3 separate regions of the Homo sapiens genome follow, and all the other regions are linked to region 2. Evidence: fine-mapped expression QTL. A gene starts in region 2. Each other region holds a variant in brackets. All regions are shown on one strand. Distances are from middle to middle.

Region 1 (6,357 bases), 42 kb after region 2:
CCATGATGTGAACTGAATGGAGAAGACCAGGAGGAGACCAGGGTGGGATAGGAGAGAGAAGGGGAGGGACAGAGAGGTTCGGGTTCGTGAAGTGGGAGGAAACGACCACATTGTGGGTGGTCTGCAGAGGCCAGAGGAAGAAGGGGATTGGAGGGGTGCTGGGAAAGGTGGGGCAGAGATGGGCGAGCTGGTGAGGAAGGCTGAGCAGGAAAGGACGTGAAGCAGAGAAGGGCAGAGGGCTGGTGAGGAGGGAAGAGGCTTTCATTCATTGCTTCAAAAGTATTTATTGGGGCCAGGTGCAGTGGCTTATGCCTGTAATCCTAGTGCTTTGGGAGGCCAAGGTGGGAGGCTTATTTGAGGCCAGGAGTTCCAGACCAGCCTGGGCAACACAGCAAGACACCCATCTCAACAACAACAACAAAAAATTTATTTTTAATTAGCCGAGCACACACCTGTAGTCCCAGCTACTAGGAGGCCGAGGGGGAAGGATCACTTGAGCCCAGCAGTTCAAGGCTGCAGTGAGCCATGATCATGCCACTGCACTCCAGCTTGGGTGACAGAGCAAGACCCCATTTCTTAACAACAACAAAAGGTCAGGGGCAGTGGTTCATTCCTGTGATCGCAGCACTTTGGGAGGCTGAGGTGGGAGGATCTCTTGAGCCCGGAAGTTCCAGACCAGCCTGGGTAACATAGGGAGACCTCATCTCTACTAAAATTAGCTGGGCATGGTGGTGCCTGTAGTCCCAGCAACTTGGGAGGCTGAGGAGGGAGGATGGCTTGAGCCTAGGAGTTTAAGGCTGCAGTGAGCTTTGATCACGCCACTGCACACCAGCCTGGGCAGCAAGAGCAAGATCCTGTCTCAAAAAACAAAAAAAAAAAAGGGAAAAAGAAAAAAGTATTTATTGAGCAACTACTATTTACTAAGTGTCAGTGGTATAGTGTTAAGGGCACTGCAACCAGATGTTGGGGGAGGTCAAATCTTCAGACTTTCATTTACTGTGTGTGACCTTGGACAAGTTACTTAACCTCTCTGTGTCTTAGTTCCCTCCTTTGAAAAATGCAAATTAAATGAGTTAATACAATAAAGTAGAGCAGAGCCTGCACATAGTAAGCTCTGTATCAGCTGTGTCGGCCGTTGCTGTTGTTACTATTACCTTTCCGACTTGACTTGAGGTGCTGGATCGTGTTCCTGAGCTGGAAGTCGTAAGGCTCTGTGGGGAGGTCCACAGGATTGGACGTACATGTTATAAAGTTCAGATCTTGGGCTCTGAAGTCAACAAACCTGTGTCCAAATGCCTGGCCTGCCTCATTGCCTGTGTGAGCTTGGGCAAGTTAACGCACCTTTCTGAGCTTCGTGTGGAAAGCAGGAGGTTTCTGAACATCTGCCTCTTTGGGGAACTGTGAGGATTAAATTAGATTATGCAAGACGCCCGGCAGGACGTGGCTTTGTCATTCCTGTCCCTCTTCTACCCCTTCAGGTCTGGGGATGGATGGACAGGCAGTGCCCAGAGCCTCCAGTTTCCTTCTCTGTCCCCATCCTGGAGCCCCTCCCTTCCCCTGCCCCTTACGGCCTCAGCAGTGGCTTTTTAGGTGGAGTTGCCTTCGGGGGACAGGACTGTGGCCAGCCAGGAACTGGAGAGCCAAGGGCCCTGGGATGGGGTCCCAGGTGCAAGCCAGAGCACCCTGGCCTTCAGAGGCCGCTCTGGTTCTGCACCCACATGAGCAATCCTGAGTGAAATGGACACCTACACATGGGGAGACTGAGGCAGAGAGGGTTCTGGAAGGGGGTTTGTCAGGGACTGCTGCATGGCTATCATATGAGCCTAGGGGAAGACAGAAGGGCACCGCTGGACTAGCCTGATCACAAGCAACAGCCGCCACTGGGCAGCCACGGCCGCACCCAGCACTCCAGCTTTACCGGGCTTCTACCCCAGGACTTCCTGACCCCCAGGCAGCCTCTGCCCTCCACCCCACTGCAGGATCCCTACTTCCTCTAGGGCATGTACTTTAAATTCCAGCTCCATCCCCCATTCGCTAGGGGAAGTGGCTTCACCTCTCTGAGCTTCAGCTTCTCCATCTGTGAAAATGGAGAGAAATAACACCAACCTTCCTGCACAGTAGTTGGGGGAGAGTATATGCTTGACGCAGTCCCAGTCACATAGTAGGTCTCACTAAAGAGTCCCCATGGGAGCCTCAGTGGAATTGCCTGGAAGCCACCCTCCCTCCCTTCCTCCCTTCCCCCCTCCTTTTTTTTTTTCTGAGGTGGAGTCTCCCTCTGGAGCCCAGGCTGGAGTGCAGTGGTGTGATCTCAGCTCACTGCAAACTCTGCCTCCCAGGTTCAAGCAATTCTCCTGCCTCAGCCTCCCAAGTAGCTGGGGTTATAGGTGCCCACCACTGTGCCCAGCTAATTTTTGTATTTTTTTTATTTGAGATGGAGTCTCACTCTGTCGCCAGGCTGGAGTGCAGTGGCGCAATTTCAGCTCACTGCAACCTCCGCCTCCCGGGTTCAAGCGATTCTCCTGCCTCAGCCTCCCAAGTAGCTGGGACTATAGGCGTGCACCACCATGCCCAGTTAATTTTTGCATTTTTAGTAGAGACGGGGTTTCACCATGTTGGCCAGGATGTTCTCGGGATCTCTTGACCTCATGATCTGCCCACCTCGGCCTCCCAAAGTGCTGGGATTACAGGTGTGAGCCACCACGCCCAGCCTGTATTTTTTTTTTTTTTTTTTTTTTTTTTTTTTTTTAGTAGAGATGGGGTTTCACCATATTGGCCATGGTTGGCCAGGCTGGTCTTGAACTGCTGACCTCAGGTGATCTGCCCGCCTTGGCCTCCCAAAGTGCTGGGATTACAGGTGTGAGCCATCACGCCCAGCCTGCCGGTAACTATTTCTATGGACCTCTCTTTAGTCCCCACCCTCCCACTCCAGACTCTCCCCATGTCAGTGTACCCTGCAATATGCAGGAACCTGTGCGTAGGGATGTTCCTTTGCTCACAACCCTTCAGTGACTCCCAACCTTCATTCATTCATTCAGTCATTCAACAAATAGTGAAACTTGGGGAGCCAGAGTTTACCATGAACAAATGATGTGAAAGTTTTCATTGAGTGAATTCCCATGAGCTGCCCAGGCTCTGCGATGAATGTTTTTGGAAACTGAGGCTGAGAGAGGCTGTGTCACTAACCCAAGCTCACCTAGCCAGTCAGTGTCTGAGACTATCTCCCCCACACTGATGCCACAGGCTTGAAATGCCACTGCCACCATATCTGTCCTTTTGGGTCAAGCATTGCCCAGCGCAGACCCCTCTTGTAAGATGCCATCACTCCTGGGAGGTGGAGAGGCCTCCAGTGCATAAGTGGGGCTGTGGATGGTTCCTCCGGGCCATTTCTCCTGCTGGAGTAGCTGGGCTGAGTGGAATTAGAAGGGAGGCTCAGACTGGGCGCAGTGGCTCACACCTATAATCTCAGCACTTTGGGAGGCTGAGGCGGGCAGATCACCTGAGGTCGGGAGTTCGAGACCAGCCTGACCAACATGGAGAAACCCCGTCTCTACTAAAAATACAAAATTAGCCAGGCATGGTGGCGCATGCCTGCAATCCTAGCTATTCAGGAGGCTGAGGCAGGAGAATCGCTCGAACTCGGGAGACAGAGGTTGCAGTGAGCCGAGATCAAGCCATTTGCACGCCAGCCTGGGGAATAAGAGCGAAACTCTGTCATAAAAAAAAAAAAAAAAAAAAAAGAAGAAGGGAGGCTCACAGCTTTCTCAGTCTTCTTCCTGGGCCAGACTTTTTCGGGTCCTTCCCCTCTTGGGGTGTGGCAGCCCCGGCTCTGCCTGACTCAAGCCTGCTGTAGGCCACCAGCGATCATCTGAGTCACCCTCGAGGGACCAGCCTCTCTTGATGGGACCTGAGCAGAGGTGCAGCCACGTCAGGGTGGCCCTAGGCAGCAGCGGAAGCCAGGCCTGCTTGCCCAGCCCCAGGATCCCGGGAACCACTGGGCATTTCCTCTCCCTGCCCCAGAGGTGGCCTCGGCAGGCTTTTTAGGGTGATAGGAGCTGACTTCACCCTCGCCAGACCTGCTTTCTTTCCTCAGGGAAGGGTGTGGTGTGGGCAGAGAGTCCGGGCTTAGACTCAGGCAGGTCTCATGCAGATGCTAGCTTTGCTGCCGGCCAGCCGTGTGACCTCTGTGCACAGCTGGGTCCTGTCTGTAAAGTGGGAATACCAGTGTGGTGAGGAGGCCATGCCCTCGGGCCTAGAACGAGGGCTCAGCACAGGGCCTGGCATGTGGTAGGCCCAATGAGCGTCAGTTATGGTCACGGTCACTGTCATTCGTAATAG[C/T]GGTAGCCCTGGTAGCCCCTCAATGCCAAGGCGGCTACTCCCAGAGGCTCAGGGAGGGGTCCATTGTAGAGGCGGGGGCACCCTGCTTAGTCCAGAAAGCTCACCCTCCACAGCAACCCTCAGTGCCCCTGCCTCAGTCTACTCATCTTCAGAGTAGGTCACTGCTTGGCTGGAGGCCTAATGGAGAGCTTGGGGAGAGACCCTGTCCACGTCTCTGATCTCCGGGGAAGGAGAAGCCTGTGTGGTAGCCCTGCTAATGAAGCCCCTCCTCTCCCTCCTCTTGGGGAACCCATGACCCTCTCCTCCGTGAAGTCTATCCTCCCTCACATCCCCCAGCTCTGAGAGTGACTCTCCCAGAGTTCCCAAATTTCCTGGCTTGGGGCTCTCCCTGACCTCAGACTCTTTCTCTTCCAGGAGGAGCGATGGGCAGAACCAGCACTTCCCTCAGGCACTAGACCTGTCACGAGTGAACTTAGTTCCCTCCTATACTCCTTCACTCTACCCTAAGGTAAGTGTCCCCCTCCATACCTACGGCCCCTGGTCTGCCCCCTACCTCCGACACATGCCCAGGGCTGGGAAAGGCCCAAGAATGACTTTTGGGCAAAGGTAAAATGTTCAGGCAGATGCTGATGGGGTTTAGCTCCTAAGGGGTTGCCACTCCTGAGCCCGGGGTGAGGCTGGTGCAGTCACAAACGTTGAACCTAGGTCTGTAGACTGTGGCAGGGAGGGGCTTAGGGCGAATCTAAGCAAAACAGCTGGGAATAAACCAGCCCCCCAGCTATCTTCATCATCTCCACAATCAACGTCACCATCAGTCTCCTTATCTGTAAACCAGGTGCAATGAGAGGACCCACTTCACAGGGTCATTGTGAAGATTGCTGCAAAGTACAGACAGGGCGGCCCAGGCACAGCATCCGGCACAGAGCAAGAGCCCTGTCAACGAGCCTCTATCATTATCGTTAAAATCAAACGTTTGCCCAGTACCTGCTTCATGCCAAGCCTTGTGCTGGGTGCCAAGCGACCAGAAACCAATCTGATACAGATCCTGCTCTCAAGGAGCCACAGTCCAGTAAAGCAATAGATAACTGAACAATGTATGCAGGACATCAAATAGCAGAAATAACCTCTAATATTTATTGAGACTTACTGTGTACTAAGAGAGTACTTAATGCTTTATTTGCAGTATTTCATCTCATCCTTGGACTATGTGATAGCTACTATAATCAGTCCCATTTTGCAGATGAGAAAATTGAGGCTCAGAGAGGTTCAGTCACTTGCCCGAAGTCACTCAGGTTGGATGTGGTGGGGCCACGACCGGATGCAAGCTGTCTGACCAGAGGGCCTGGTGTTAGGGCCTCTCTGATGCAGGGGTGACAAGCTCTCACTTTTGCAGTACTTTTTGCAGTTTCTAAAGCACACCCACAGACATCATGCCACCTGGTCCTTTTAGTAAACCTTGGGTAGTAGGCATTATCTAGTTGAGGATGCAGGAGATCAGAGAAGTAAAGTGGTCTTCCCAAGGTCACACAGCCAGAAAATAGCAGAGGCAAAATCCACCAGGCTCCTCCCTGAGAGCTCTGGCCTGGAATAAAGGCCACGTACCTTGCCTAGGCTGGGAGGGCAGATGGCCAAGGAATGGTGTCCATATGTGGGGCCACCACCTTCATGGGGGTGCCACGTGGGGCTGCTGGGAGCAGCAGCAGGAGATTCCTGAGACTGACTCCTGTTTTCTCTGTCTGGGCAACAGCCCAAGACTGGGGCATGTGGATCCGGGGCTTGGCAGGAAGGGAGAGACTCAATGGCAGCCCTCACTTGACAGCTGGGTTCATGAATGAAGCTCCCAGTCCCTCTTCCCCTGAGCATCTCAGGAGGAGCCCTGGGTTCTCACCAAGGGCTGTATGCCCTCGGACCACAGCTTCCCCTCCCTGGGCCTCAGTCTTCCCATCAGGAGACGAGAGAGAGAGAGAGCAGCCCATAGCCCTGGGCCCTGCGTGCTAGACAGCCTGGGGTTGGCCTTCTCGG
Region 2 (6,516 bases):
CTGGAGTTTTTGTAGCATCTTCTCACTCATCCACAGCATGTCACTTGTTCTCTGGATGAAGGAGGCTCCAAGTCATGCTAGACTGTGGAGTTCTGGAACTAGAGTATACTGTTTATTTCCTGTACTGGAAGCCAGAGTTAGGGCCAGGCTGGATTTTATGTCTGCACCTAAAACCATTCAGTCCCCCACAAATGAATCAACCTAATTAGTGCTAGACTGTTGTAGCTCCCTGAGAGCAGGGCTCTGGCCATCTTACCACTGTATTCCCACAGCGGCCCGCATGATACATCCTCAGTAAGGAAAAATGAATGACTACTTTGGAATCTGTTAGAAGTTTTCCCGTGGCCCCTTGGGGGAGAGCTCTTTTTACTACTTTGGTTTGACCAGTACTGTCCCTACCTTCAGGCTTTTCTTCTTTGTCCTCAAAACAGGGACTTCCTAACTATTCATGATCCAAAGTCCTCTAACCCCAGGGGTAGTCTCTGTCATGTCTGCTGCACCAGGTTGGCAGCCTCCCACCCAGACGGGGGCCGCTGGCCCTTCCCTGATGCGTGTGCCCTGGCGCCGACTGCCACTCTTCATCCTGCCTTGCTGTGGTTAGAGTGGAACTGTCCTCTGCTCCAAGCCGCCCCTGAAGCCCACCCTCCTTGCCGGCCTTTCCTAGACCTTACCTGTGGCTCTGTGGACAGCACACCTTGAGGACTTGCTGCTTTGGGGTTTTCTTCCCCTACTTGCTCTGGTGGGCAGTTCCTATCTCAGTTTTTCTCCCATTTGATCTGACTGGGAAGGAGTGGGCGGGCAGAGATGGGGAGTTATTTCCAAGAGGCATCATTCCCATTTTAGGACTGTTCCCCCCTCCCTCACCTGCAGTCTCATGCATTATTTGGAGTTTACCGTGGTGCCACCCATGTTTTCGTTCTCCAGCCTTTTTGGATGCCAGATTTTTAAAGCCAGCTTTCATTTCTCAGTGATAGGGAGCACAGAGATGGTGGCTGGGTCGCAATGTATTAAGTGTCTGAGACAAGGCTTGTGCCCAGAGGCAGCCATGCGTGAGTGGTCAGTCCTGAGTGGTTTGGATTGAAATAGGACAGGGAAAGCAAAGCTCCGGGGCCTTTGTCCAATCTTCCCCCTCAGTAGCTAGGCTGCATGCCAAGCTCTGTGCCCAGCCCCCTACGGCACGTGCTGCCTCCTCGCCAGGGGCCCTGACAGTCTCAGAATGGTGCCCCCCAGGACACATGGGAGATTATAAGCCTCTTGCATTGAGGGAGGTTTTCTGTAAAGGGGAAAATGCTGTAATTGAAAAGCTCCTTGATTATAAAGAAGAAATAGAGACGCCTGGCATAGAAGAGACTTCGTTCTTTGGTCTGCTCAGCCAGGGTCGGGGACATTCAGTACCCCCAGGCTAATAGGCTCTTGAGCTCTTAAGGACCTTGGAGTCTGCAGGTCCAGACTCCAGAAGGTTATGGGACCATGAAGAGGTCACACAGCTGTACCCCTTGGCTTGCTGCATTTCTGCATCTCCAGTGCCTCCATCTGCCCCCTCCCTCCAGCTCAGGTGGGACACCTTTGTCTCCACTCAGCACTCTGGGATGTACCATCAGCAATGCCTGGCCAGAATTGAGGGTCTCTGTCTTAAAGCGTGGAGGAGAAAGGGGCCCTTTTGGAACAGGAGTTAGGGAAGCAAGAAGCATGAAGATTGTGCTCAGAATTGAATTCAGGGAGCAATGCATAAAAAAGCGAGAGGATGGGTAGAGAGATGGTGCTTAAAAGGATCCTGGAATCCATGTACTTCTGAGATCTGTGAGCCCCGCCCCTGCTGAAGATGAGCCAGCCCCACCCAGTACATGCTGCCCTTGAAGGTCTATAGGCATTCTGCTGGCATTTCCTAAGTAGGATGTATTTGACCAAGCATCTCCCAGGACCAGAGCCCTGCAGGACATACCTGTCTAGGGCAGTTGCTATGCCCCACAGTCCCTTCACCATCATCCCCAGAAGCGCCTCGGCCAGCCTCATTCAACTTCTTGCCTTTTTATTACAGTGTTTGAGCCAACTATATAGTCCTGGTGTATTCCTAGGCAGGAGATCAAAGGGCCCCCCGGGTTGGGTGGTCCATGAGTGAGCATGTGATACCGCAGGAGTCTTCCTCCTGCCCTGACAACTTGCCTTGTACTACCAGTGCTGCTCAGGATGTCTGCAGCCACGAAGCTTCATTATAAATGCAGGAGCTCAGGCTCCAGGCCCACTGAATCTGAATCTGAGTCTACAGACCGCTCCTGCACTCTTAGAAGTTTGAGAAACCCCCCTGGGCTGGGGTCTCTTTCCCATATACAGCTAGGGAAGCTTGCTGGAGGGAGGACTGAAAAGAACAAGTGCCTGATCTACCTTCCCCTCTGCCCTTTCACAGGTGGGTGGATGCGTGGGAAGAGGGTGGGGCATTTCCTGCTATTCCCCCTTATTCACCTTTTCTCCACGGGGATTAGAGTCTTGACCGGAAAACATGGCTCTGGTCCCCAGCCCCTATGGGACTGAAAACCCGGAGGCTTGCATGTCTCAGATCCTCCAGAGGCTGATGTAAGAGTTGCTGAAGACCTCGGATCTTTCCTTTTGTGAAATGCAGCCCATGTGGCCGGGAAAATAGTGGGAGCTGGAAGTAACAGTTGTGGTTTTAAGCACACAGTAGATGCTCAAGAAATATATTGAGTACATGTCTTGGACTTTCCCCTCCCTAAATATTATCTGTCAAGTGGGCCTATTGGACTTGTTGACCTTGGAGGGCCCTGTCGGCTTGACCCACCAATTCGAAATGGTTGAGAAAGAGGTCTGTCTTTGTACCTTTTGCAGCCTGTTTTCCCAGTTCTTAGAACATTGGGGTGAGATCCAGAGATTTCAGAGATCCCCCTGGAACACGAGTGTTCTGTGACGAGTTCATGACCTTGGAGCCACCAACCATACCCCTCACCCGTTGTCCCCAGTTCTGGCCTTGCCGACCCACTGCGTGTTTCTTTGCTTCATGTGGGCTGTTCCCCGGGGAGGGAGCTCAGTGGAGAACAGAAAGAGGTGTGGGTGAGGGCTCCCCCTTGGTGGGGAGTGGGGCACAGGAGCCTCAGGCTCTGTTGACCATCAAAGAAGGGACTCGAGTGGGCAGGCCGCTCACTTGCTGTGGACCTTGGGCAAGTCTCTAACTCTCCCTGGGCCTTGGAAGTCAGGCCGAGGTGATCTCTGCCGCCCCCTCCCTGCCTGGGTTTTCACTCTTGTTCTGATCCCACTCTCTTCCGGGTGCCTCCCTTCCACTTCTCCGTAGCCTGTGGCTCCCCTCCCCACACCCGCCCTGGGCCCGGGTTAGGCTGGGGCGGGGGCGAGCTGCCCAGTCCAGAGACAAAGTCCAAGAGCCGCGAATGGGCTGGCGAGGGTCAACCGCGTGGCCTCTGCCAGGAAGCGCGCCGAGCGCCCGGGTGAGGAGGGCGTCAGCCAGGGCACAGCAGCTTTCTCGCCCAGCGAAGCCTGTGCGCCTTCCTCCCGCGCCTGCAGACAAGCGGAGCCCATGGGGGCCGTGGGCCCCACCTATCCCGACGTCTCCACTTGATCCAGAAGTTGTCCCAGTCCCCTTGGAGCATGAGCTGTTGCCTGGACAGCTGGGCTGTCGCCCAGGTTCTGCCACTGTCTAGCTGTGTAACCTTGAGCCAGTCCCTGCCCCTCTCTGGTCCTCAGTTTCCCCACCTGTAAAATGGGGGCACCGAGAACCCTCCTCCAGGACCTGCGGCGGGGCGGGGCGGCAGGGCGGGGGCCTCCCCGCCGCTCCCGCGCCCGCGGCTTGGGCTCCGCAGTGAGTGGGGAGCGGCGCCGGGGAAGGAGCGCTCCGCGGTCATGTGACGTCCCCCTCCCCGAACTGCGGCGGCGGCGAGCGCCGGCCGCATCTGAGCAGAGCTGCAGCGGCGGCCGCGGGCACCAGAGTGCCGAGCCCAGGACGCCCCCGGCCCAGGCCCTTGGGTGAGTGCGCCCCGCCAGGGCTGCGGCCCTGGAAAGGGGAAGGGGACAGAGGTGTCCAGACTCCCGTCGGCTCGCAGCGAAGACCCCGCGCGGGCGGGCGGGGACGGAGGGTGGGGGCGAACGCGTGGGGGACCCGGGTCTCCAGGGGCGAGGGGTGGGCGCAGCTGGGCTCGCGCAGCCCGGTCTTGACAGCAGCTGGAGAAGTGGGGGGAGGCCTGGACTGAGCCGGCTGAACCCCCAGCCTGTTGGACTTGGTCCAGGCCGCGGCCAGGGGGCTTTGGTCCCACCCCCCTGGGTGGGTGGGGAGTCCAGTTTTCCGCCCACCTCGAGGTGGGGGCGCCTGGGGTTTAGAGGAGGGACTGTGGGAAGTGGGCGCGTTTCCTCCATCCCTGGGGAGGGGCCCAAGCCCTAGCGCCCCCCAGAGGGTGGCGCTCCTGTCCTCAGAGGAGGGAAGTGGGGGCCTCAGATCAAGGACCCTGAGCGGGGAGGGCGGTGATGTCCTTGCATCCCCAGAGACAGGACGCATTCCCCTGTCCCTGACCCCCGCGGCAGAGCGGGGCACACGCGTCACGAAGTTGGGCGCCCCCTCGTCGCCTCCCCTGGCTCGGCAGGATCTGAGGACTCGGTGGGAATTCACGGGGCGGTTTCCGTGCCCTGCAGGGTTTGGTGCCAGCTGCGGGGCGCCTGGGCTTGGGGAAGAAACCTTGTGTACGCACACCTGCACACACACACAGTCTCCGGAGGTGAGCGGCCCCCTCCCTACCATAACAGACCCCAGCCTGTGCATGCCCTCGGAGTCCTTGTTGGGGTCATAGCACAGGCCCGGTGGTGGGGTCAGGAAGAACATCCACTGTTCTCAGGGCTCATTGGCCTCTGTCCCCGGGCTCCATTCCCCTCCCTGCCAAGTCAGAGGTCAGGCCCCTGGGGCGGCAGGCAGGAAGGACACTGAGGGAAGGGGCACTGAGGCAGGAGGGGCACTGAGGGAAGCTGGCCAGGTGGAAGTAGGAGAGAAAGGCAATGGGGGTGAGATGGTACCACTTCCTCCCCATATGAGGCTCTCAGGAGGCTCCTGGCCCCCCCTGCACAGGTAGTGGTCCCTCCTTCCTGAGGGTGTTTGGGGGAAAACGCTATGGTTGGGGCACTGGGGAAGGTTGCCTCGCAGATGAAACAGAACATTGGCCAAAGGTGTCCCTGAATGGGCTTCTGGACTGGCACAGGGCCCTGAGGGCTGTGGCTGAGTGGGGAGGCAGTGATCAGGTCCAGCTGGCCATGGGGGCCCCCCATTCCCTTCTCCATGACCTCAGCCTCACTCTGAGAGCCCCCAGCAGCTGGAAGGTCTGGTAAGGGGTGCGTGTTCCTTGATGGCCTTGGGAAGGGTTCCAGGGTAATGATTAATCCTCAGGTGGCACGAGCAATTTCCCCCTTCACAGCAATATTTCAGGGCAGGCGCTGAAGCCTCCATTGCACAGGTGAGGAAACTGAGGCTCGGAGAGGCTAAATGAACTGCCTGAGGTCACCTAGTCACCTTCAGCAAGGTCTAGAATCGTGGTACTCTGACTCTTGATGGGAGAAGATCTCCACAGCGGTGGAGAGGAGGAAGGGTGAACGCCGTGGTGGAGTGGTCCATGTGGACCTGCTCCCCTTTGCTGCCAGGAGGTGAGGGTGCCTGTGGCTGGAAGCTGGGTCAGGTTGAGGAGAGGGTCCAGAGTCCTAGGCTTGCCTTGCCACCCCTTCCCATGGAGGGAGGGTTGTCCCGTGGAGCACCATAATGGTGCTTTCACCCTGGGACCTTCCCAGCTTGCTTGGGCAAAGCCCTCTCCTCTTCTCTTCTTCCCAAGGTGCCTGCCTGGCAGGGGTCTCAGGAGGCCCCTCTCCTGGCTCTAACTACCTTCCACCCTTAGGAGACAAGAAGGATTCTTCCTTTGGCCTCTTGGAGGGCAGCAGGGAGAGAGGTCTCTGCCACTTAGGCCTCAGGCTCCCACAGCAGGGCCTCCACCTCCCTCTCACCTGGCCCTGCCCCTGCCCTGCTGTCAAATTCTGGGGCCAAGAGGCCCTTTGAGGACTCCTCGGGCAGATCTGTCCTCCATGCTGCCATCTGTCTACGGAGGCCTTTGTCCTGGCTGTCAGAGGCTGCTGAGCAGCCGCATGTGCTGTGCAAACAACCGAGACCTGAGCACGGCCAGACACAAACGCAAATACAGTTAGACTGACAGATACCCTGAGACCCAGACACAGGAACACACGGGCACACCCAGGCCAAGACCCCTGCCCCCGACTCTGCCTGACACACAAGCACTGAGAGTCACACCATCCAGATGCTGGCACGTGTGTACACACAGAGAGACGGAGGTTGTCAGCAAGGAGAAGAGCCTTTTCAGAAGCCCTCGTCTTCTGTCGTCTGCCTCCATTATCTCCTCCAGGGTGCACACATGGTACACGCGCATGCAGGAAGAACACGAGGATGCCCTACGCCCTTAAAAATGAACCTGGCAGACACGCACATGCACCCACCCACACCCAGGCCATCAT
Region 3 (6,371 bases), 110 kb before region 2:
TCCAGAACTTTTCATTATCCTAAAAGGAAACTGAGCATCTGTTAGTCACTTCCCATTTTCCCCCCTCGCCCAGCCCCTGGCAACTGCTAATCTACTTTCTGTCTCTGGATTTCTCTATTAATATTTCATAGCAATGGAATTATACAGTACGTGGCCATTTGTGTCTGGTTTCACTTAACGTAATGTTTCCAAGGGTTATCCCTGCTGCGCATGTGTCACTACTTTATTCCTTACGGCTGAGTAGTATTCCATTTTATGGATAATACCACATTTTATATATCTATTCATCAGTTGAGGGACATTTTGATTATTTCCACCTTTTGCTTATTTTGAGTAGTACTTCTCTGAACATTTGCATACAAGTTTTGGTCTGAACATCTGATTTCAGTTCTTTACCTGGGAGTGGAATTACTGGGTCATACACAGTCAATTCTGTGTTTAACTTAACCGAACCGCGAAACTTCCACAGTGGTTGTACCGATTTACATTCCCACCAGTGATGTATGAGGGTTCAAATGCTTCATCATCCTCATAAACAGGTACTATTTTCTGTTTTTCTGGTTAGGCCCTCCTACTTGGGTGTGAAGTGATGCATCTTTGTAGTTTTGATTTGCATTTTCCTAGTGACTAATGAGTTCAGCGTCTTTTCATGTGCTCGTTGCCTCTTTTCCTTTTATTGATCAATAATATGCCATCATATCTCTGTATCTACCACATTTTTAATTTGCATTCATCTGCTGATAGACATTTGGGTCATTTCTACTTTTTGGCTATTATAATGTTGCTATGAACATTAGTGTAGTAGTTTTTGTGTGGGCATTTATTTTTATTTCTCTTGGTTATAGAGCAAGAAGTGGGATTGTTGGGTTGTGTGGTAACTTTTAACTTTTTATTATTATTATTATTTTTTTTTTGAGACGGAGTCTCTCTGTGTTGCCCAGGCTGGAGTGCAGTGGCGCCATCTCGGCTCACTGCAACCTCTGCCTCCTAGGTTCAAGCGATTCTTGTGCCTCAGCCTCTGAGTCACTGGGATTACAGACGCCCACCACCACACCCGGCTAATTTTTTGTATTTTTTAGTAGAGACTGGGTTTCGCCAAGTTGGCCAGGCTGGTCTTGAACTCCTGACCTCAGGTGATCCACCTACCTCGGCCTCCCAAAGTGCTGGGATTACAGGCTTGAGCCACCGCACCCAGCTCTTTTAACTTTTATTTATTTATTTATTTTTAATGAGGTCTCACTCTGTAACACAGACTGTATTGCAGTGCAATCATGGCTCACTGCAGCCTTGAACTCCTGGGCTCAAGCAATCCTCCCGCCTCAGCCTCCTGCCACTACAGGCACATGCCACAACACGAGGCTAATTAAACAAAATTTTTTTGCTGGGCGTGGTGGCTCACGCCTGTAACCTCAGCACTGTGGGAGGCCAAGGCTGGCGGATCACGAGGTCAGGAGATCGAGACCATCCTGGCTAACGTGGTGAAACTCCGTCTCTACTAAAAATACAAAAAATTAGCCGGGCATGGTGGCGGATGCCTGTAGTCCCAGCTACTCGGGAGGCTGGGGCAGGAGAATGGCATAAACCCGGGAGGCAAAGGCAGGAGAATGGCACGAACCCGGGAGGCAGAGCTTGCAGTGAGCTGAGATACGCCACTGCACTCCAGCCTGGGTGACAGAACGAGACTCCGTCTCCAAAAAAAAAAAAAAATTTGTGGAAATGGAGTCCCACTTTGGTGCCCAAGCTGGTCTTGAACTCCTTGCTTCAAGTGATCCTCCTGCCTTGGCCCCCTGAAATGCTTGGATTGCATGAATGAAACTGTTCATGGCCTTTTTTTGGCTTTTTTTTTTTTTTTTTTTTTAAGATGAGGGTCTTGCTATGTTGTGTAGGCTGTCCTTGAACTCCTGGGCTCAATCAATACTCCTGCCCCAGCTTCCCTGGTAGCTGGGACTGTAGGCACGAACCACCATGTCTGTGTTTAATATTTTGAGGAATTGTCAGGTTACTTTCCAGAGTGGCTGCGCTATTTTACATATTCACAAGCAGTATATGAGGATTCCAATTGCTCTATGTCCCTATACTTGTTACTGCCTTTTTTCTTTTAGCCATCCTAGTGGGTGCGAAGTGGTGTCTTATGTTTTGATTTGTGTTTCATTGATGACTAATCACGTTAAACATCTTTTTGTGTACTTATTGGCCATTCATATATCTTTTTTGAGAAATGTCTGTTTAAATCCTTTGCGTGCTTTTAAATTGAGTTGCCTTTTGTTATTGAGTTGTGATCTTTTTTTGGTCTTGTTTTTGTTTTGTTTTTTTTTTTCAGACGGAGTCTCACTCTGTCACCCAGGCTGGAGTGCAGTGATGCCATCTCGGCTCACTGTAACCTCCGCCTCCCAGGTTCAAGCGATTCTCCTGCCTCAGCCTCCCGAGTAGCTGGGACTACAGGCGCACACCGCCACGCCTAGCTAATTTTTTTTTTTTTTTTTTTT[TG/G]GTATATTTAGTAGAGACGGGGTTTCACTATGCTGGCCAGGCTGGTCTCAAACTCCTGACCTTGTGATACGCCCACCTCAGCCTCCCAAAGTGCTAGGATTACAGGCGTGAGCCACTGCATCCAGCCAAGTTGTGTTCTTTATATATACTGCATATAAGTCCCTTATTAAATATATGATTTGCAAATATTTTTTCTAATTTCTATGGCTTTTAATTTTATTGGTGGTATCATTTTCAGTACAAAAGCTTTTCATGTTGATGTAGTCCAATTTCTTCTTCTTCTCCGCCTTCTTATTCTTATCAGTGAAGCAGGGTTCTTGCTTTGTTGCCCAACCTGGAGTGCAGTGGTGTGATTGTAGCTCACTGTAGCCTTAAACTCCTGGTCTCAAGTGATCTTTTTGCCTCAACATCCCCAGTAGGTACAACTGCAAGTTGTACCACCACACCCAGCTAATTTTTTTGGTATTTTTTGTAGAGTTGGGGTCTTACTATGTTACCCAGGCTGACCTTGAACCTTTAGCCTCAAGCAGTCCTGCTTCAGCTTCCCAGAGTACTGGGATTACAGGTGTGAACCACCTGGCCCCAACATTGTACTATTTTTTTTTTGACGCTTTTGGTCTTGTAAGAAGCCACACCTCACCCAAGGTTTGAGCAGTTTTAATTAATGAATTAGTTAATTTTATGAGACAAGGTCTGGCTCTGTTGCCCAGGCTGGAGTACAGTGGTGCAATCTTGGCTCAATGCAACCTCTGCCTCCCAGGGGCTCAAGCCATCCTCCTACTTCAGCATCCCGAGTAGCTGTGACTACAAGCATGCTCCACCACACTCGGCTAATTTTTGGTGTTTTGTTTTTTTTTTTCAGATGGAGTCTGGCTCTGTTGTCCAGGCTGAGTGTAGTGGCGCAATCTTGGCTCACTGCAACCTCCGCCTCCCATGTTCAAGCGATTCTCCTGCCTCAGCCTCCTGAGTAGCTGGGATTACAGGCATGCACCACCACACCTGGCTAATTTTTTTTTTTTTTCTTTGAGACAGAGTTTCACTCTTGTTGCCCAGGCTGGAGTGCAGCGGCACAAACTCGGCTCACTGCAGCCTCCGCCTCCCAGGTTCAAGCAGTTCTCCTACCTCAGCCTCCCGAGTAGCTGGCATTGCAGGCACCACGCCCGGCTAATTTTTGTATTTTTAGTAGAGATGGGGTTTTGCCATATTGGCCAGGCTGGTCTCGAACTCCTGACCTCAAGTGATCCCCCCGCCTTGGCCTCCCAAAGTGCTGGGATTACAGGCGTGAGCCACTGTGCCTGGCCCTGTCAGCTTTTATTTAGATATCCAAAAAGCTCTCTTTCTACTCACTTTCTTCTTTTTTTTTTTTTTTTTTTTTTTTTTGAGACAAGACACTATTCACTTTCTCCTTTTTTATAGAGACAGAGTCTTGTCACATTGCCCAGGCTGGTCTCAAACTCCTGGGCTCTAGCAGTCCTCCCTCCTCAGCCTCCTAAATTGCTGGGATTCCAGACATGAGCCTTTCTCCTTTTGTTTATTTCTTCTCTTTGCAAGAAGAGACTAAATAAATAAATAGTATCACCAATATGTATTTTTCATACTTTATGCAACAATTTGTTATGAGATACCAAAGCTGAAGAATGAGGTGTTTGACCATATTCAAAGACCACATGTGTCAGGACTGTTTACATTTCTGAAAGTACTTAGGGCAATCACAGGATGAAAGCAGTGTGTACTAAATCCTCTGTCCACAGAATTCTGCAAATATTATGTGTCTTGAGGGCAGACTTGTTTGTTAACAGTGAGGTTGGTGGTCAAGTAAGTTCCTGGAAGTAAAATTGTTGGGTAAGGGATGTGTGTTTTTCATATTGATCCATGTTGCTAAATTGCCCCTCAGAATGAGGGTTTCTCTTTACATTTCCCTGTCAATGTGTAAGAGTATCTTACATATACATCATACCCTCACCAACATAATGTGTTAGTCACACTTTCTGATCTAAGTGCAAAGGGTTTCATATGTTTAATATGTATTTATTTTGTTACAATTTCTTTTTGTTACAGTTAATCTTTTGATGTGAAATTTGTTTTGTTTTGTTTTTGAGACGGGGTCTTACTATGTTGCTTAGGCTGGTCTCAAACTCCTGGGCTCAAGGGATCTTCCTTCCTCAGCTTCCTGAATAGCTGGGATTACAAGTGCATGTCACCATGCCCAGCCTTGATATGAATTTTCAAAGGCTGGATTTACTTATGCTTCCAGCCGTGTATAGGGAGTACAATGTCTGTTTTGTTCTCATTAGGGAAACATCATATGACTATTACTAAATTAAAACATTACAGAAATGTGTGAAGCACTCTAGAAAGCCAGTGTCATGCCACCTTACTTCAGTGGCTTTGTAGCTCTAGTCCCAAAACCCTAATGAGGGCCACGCACGGTGGCTTACGCCTGTAGTCCCAACACTTTGTTAGGCCGAGGTGGGAGGATTACTTGAGGTCAGGAGTTTGAGACCAGTCTGGTCAACATGGCAAAAACCCATTTCTACTAAATTAGCCGGGCATGGTGGCGGCATACACCTGTAATTCCAGCTACTCAGGAGGCTGAGGCGCGAGAATTGCTTGAACCCAGGAGGTGTAGGTTGCAGTGAGCCAAGATTGAGCCACTGCACGCCAACCTGGGTGACAGAGTGAGACTCTGTCTCAATAAAAACCAACCAACCAAACAAAATAACCCTAACGAGGACCCATAGTTCCAGCTACACTGGAGACTGAGGTGGGAGGATGGCTTAAGCTTGGGAGGTGGAGGTTGCAGTGAGCCAAGACCATGCCACCGCACTCCAGCTTGGGCGATAGAGCAAGACCCTGTCTCAAAGGAAAAAGAACAAAGGGGAGTCACAATACATACTTTGTTGCAACTTGTTTCTATTCATGCATGTAGAGCTGCCTTATTTATTTATTTATTTATTTATTTATTTATTTATTTATTTATTTTTGAGAGAGTCTAGCTTTGTTGCCCAGGCTGGAGTGCAGTGCGTGAATTTGGCTCACTGCAACCTCCGCCTCCCAAGGTTCAAGTGATTCTTGGGCCTCAGCCTCCGGAGTAGCTGGGACAACAGGCATGGGCCACCATGCTTGGCTAATTTTTGTAGTTTAGTGGAGACGGGGTTTCACCATGTTGGCCAGGCTGGTCTCAAACTCCTAACTTCAGGTGATCTGCCCACCTCAGCCTCCCGAAGTGTTGAGATTACAGGTGTGAGCCACCGCACCTGGCTATTCTTTTTTCGTTTGTTTGTTTTGAGACAGAATCTTGCTCTGTTGCCAGGCTGGAGTACAGTGGTGCAATCTCGTCTCACTGCAACCTCTGCCTCCCGGGTTCAAGCAATTCTCCTGCCTCAGCCTCCTGAGTAGCTGGGACTACAGGGGCGCCCCACCACACCCGGCTAATTTTTGTATTTTTAGTAGAGATATGGTTTCACTGTGTTGGCTAGGATGGTCTCGATCTCCTGACCTCGCGATCTGCCCACCTTGGCCTCCCAAAGTGCTGGGATTACAGGCATGAGCCACTGCGACCGGTCCTATTCTTTCTTAAAAAATATTCTTATGTATGTTTATGATATATAACATAGCATACATACAGATAGTAAAATGGTAACTGTAATGAAGCAGATTGACATCTGTTATCTCACAGTTACAAATTTTGTGTGTGGCAAGAGAAGCTAAAATCTCATTTAGCAGGAGCCCCAAATACATACCTGCCTTATTATTATTATTATTATTATTATTATTATTATTATTATTATTTTGAGACGGAGTCTCGCTCTGTCACCCAGGCTGGAGTGCAGTGGCGTTATCTGCTCTCACTGCAACCTCCACCTTTTGGGTTCAAGTGATTC

Evidence for each region.
Region 1: its variant is fine-mapped to the expression of RAP1GAP in esophagus mucosa (GTEx, PIP 0.93).
Region 3: its variant is fine-mapped to the expression of RAP1GAP in whole blood (INTERVAL, PIP 0.99).

What each region holds. Positions count from the first base shown.
Region 1 is chr1:21,624,790-21,631,146 of GRCh38, reverse strand. RAP1GAP (RAP1 GTPase activating protein) reads left to right here. Exons shown (of 25, transcript NM_002885.4): 3 at 4,750-4,843. Among named protein-coding and RNA genes, the nearest start is that of RAP1GAP, 41 kb to the left of the region's middle. The variant C/T (reference allele first, on the strand shown) is at 4,336.
Region 2 is chr1:21,666,725-21,673,240 of GRCh38, reverse strand. It overlaps RAP1GAP (RAP1 GTPase activating protein), which reads left to right and starts at 3,884. Exons shown (of 25, transcript NM_002885.4): 1 at 3,884-3,987. RefSeq lists an enhancer at 1,965-3,164 and a silencer at 3,813-3,962.
Region 3 is chr1:21,774,089-21,780,459 of GRCh38, reverse strand. All of the region lies in intron 1 of USP48 (ubiquitin specific peptidase 48), which reads left to right. Among named protein-coding and RNA genes, the nearest start is that of USP48, 5.9 kb to the left of the region's middle. The variant TG/G (reference allele first, on the strand shown) is at 2,487.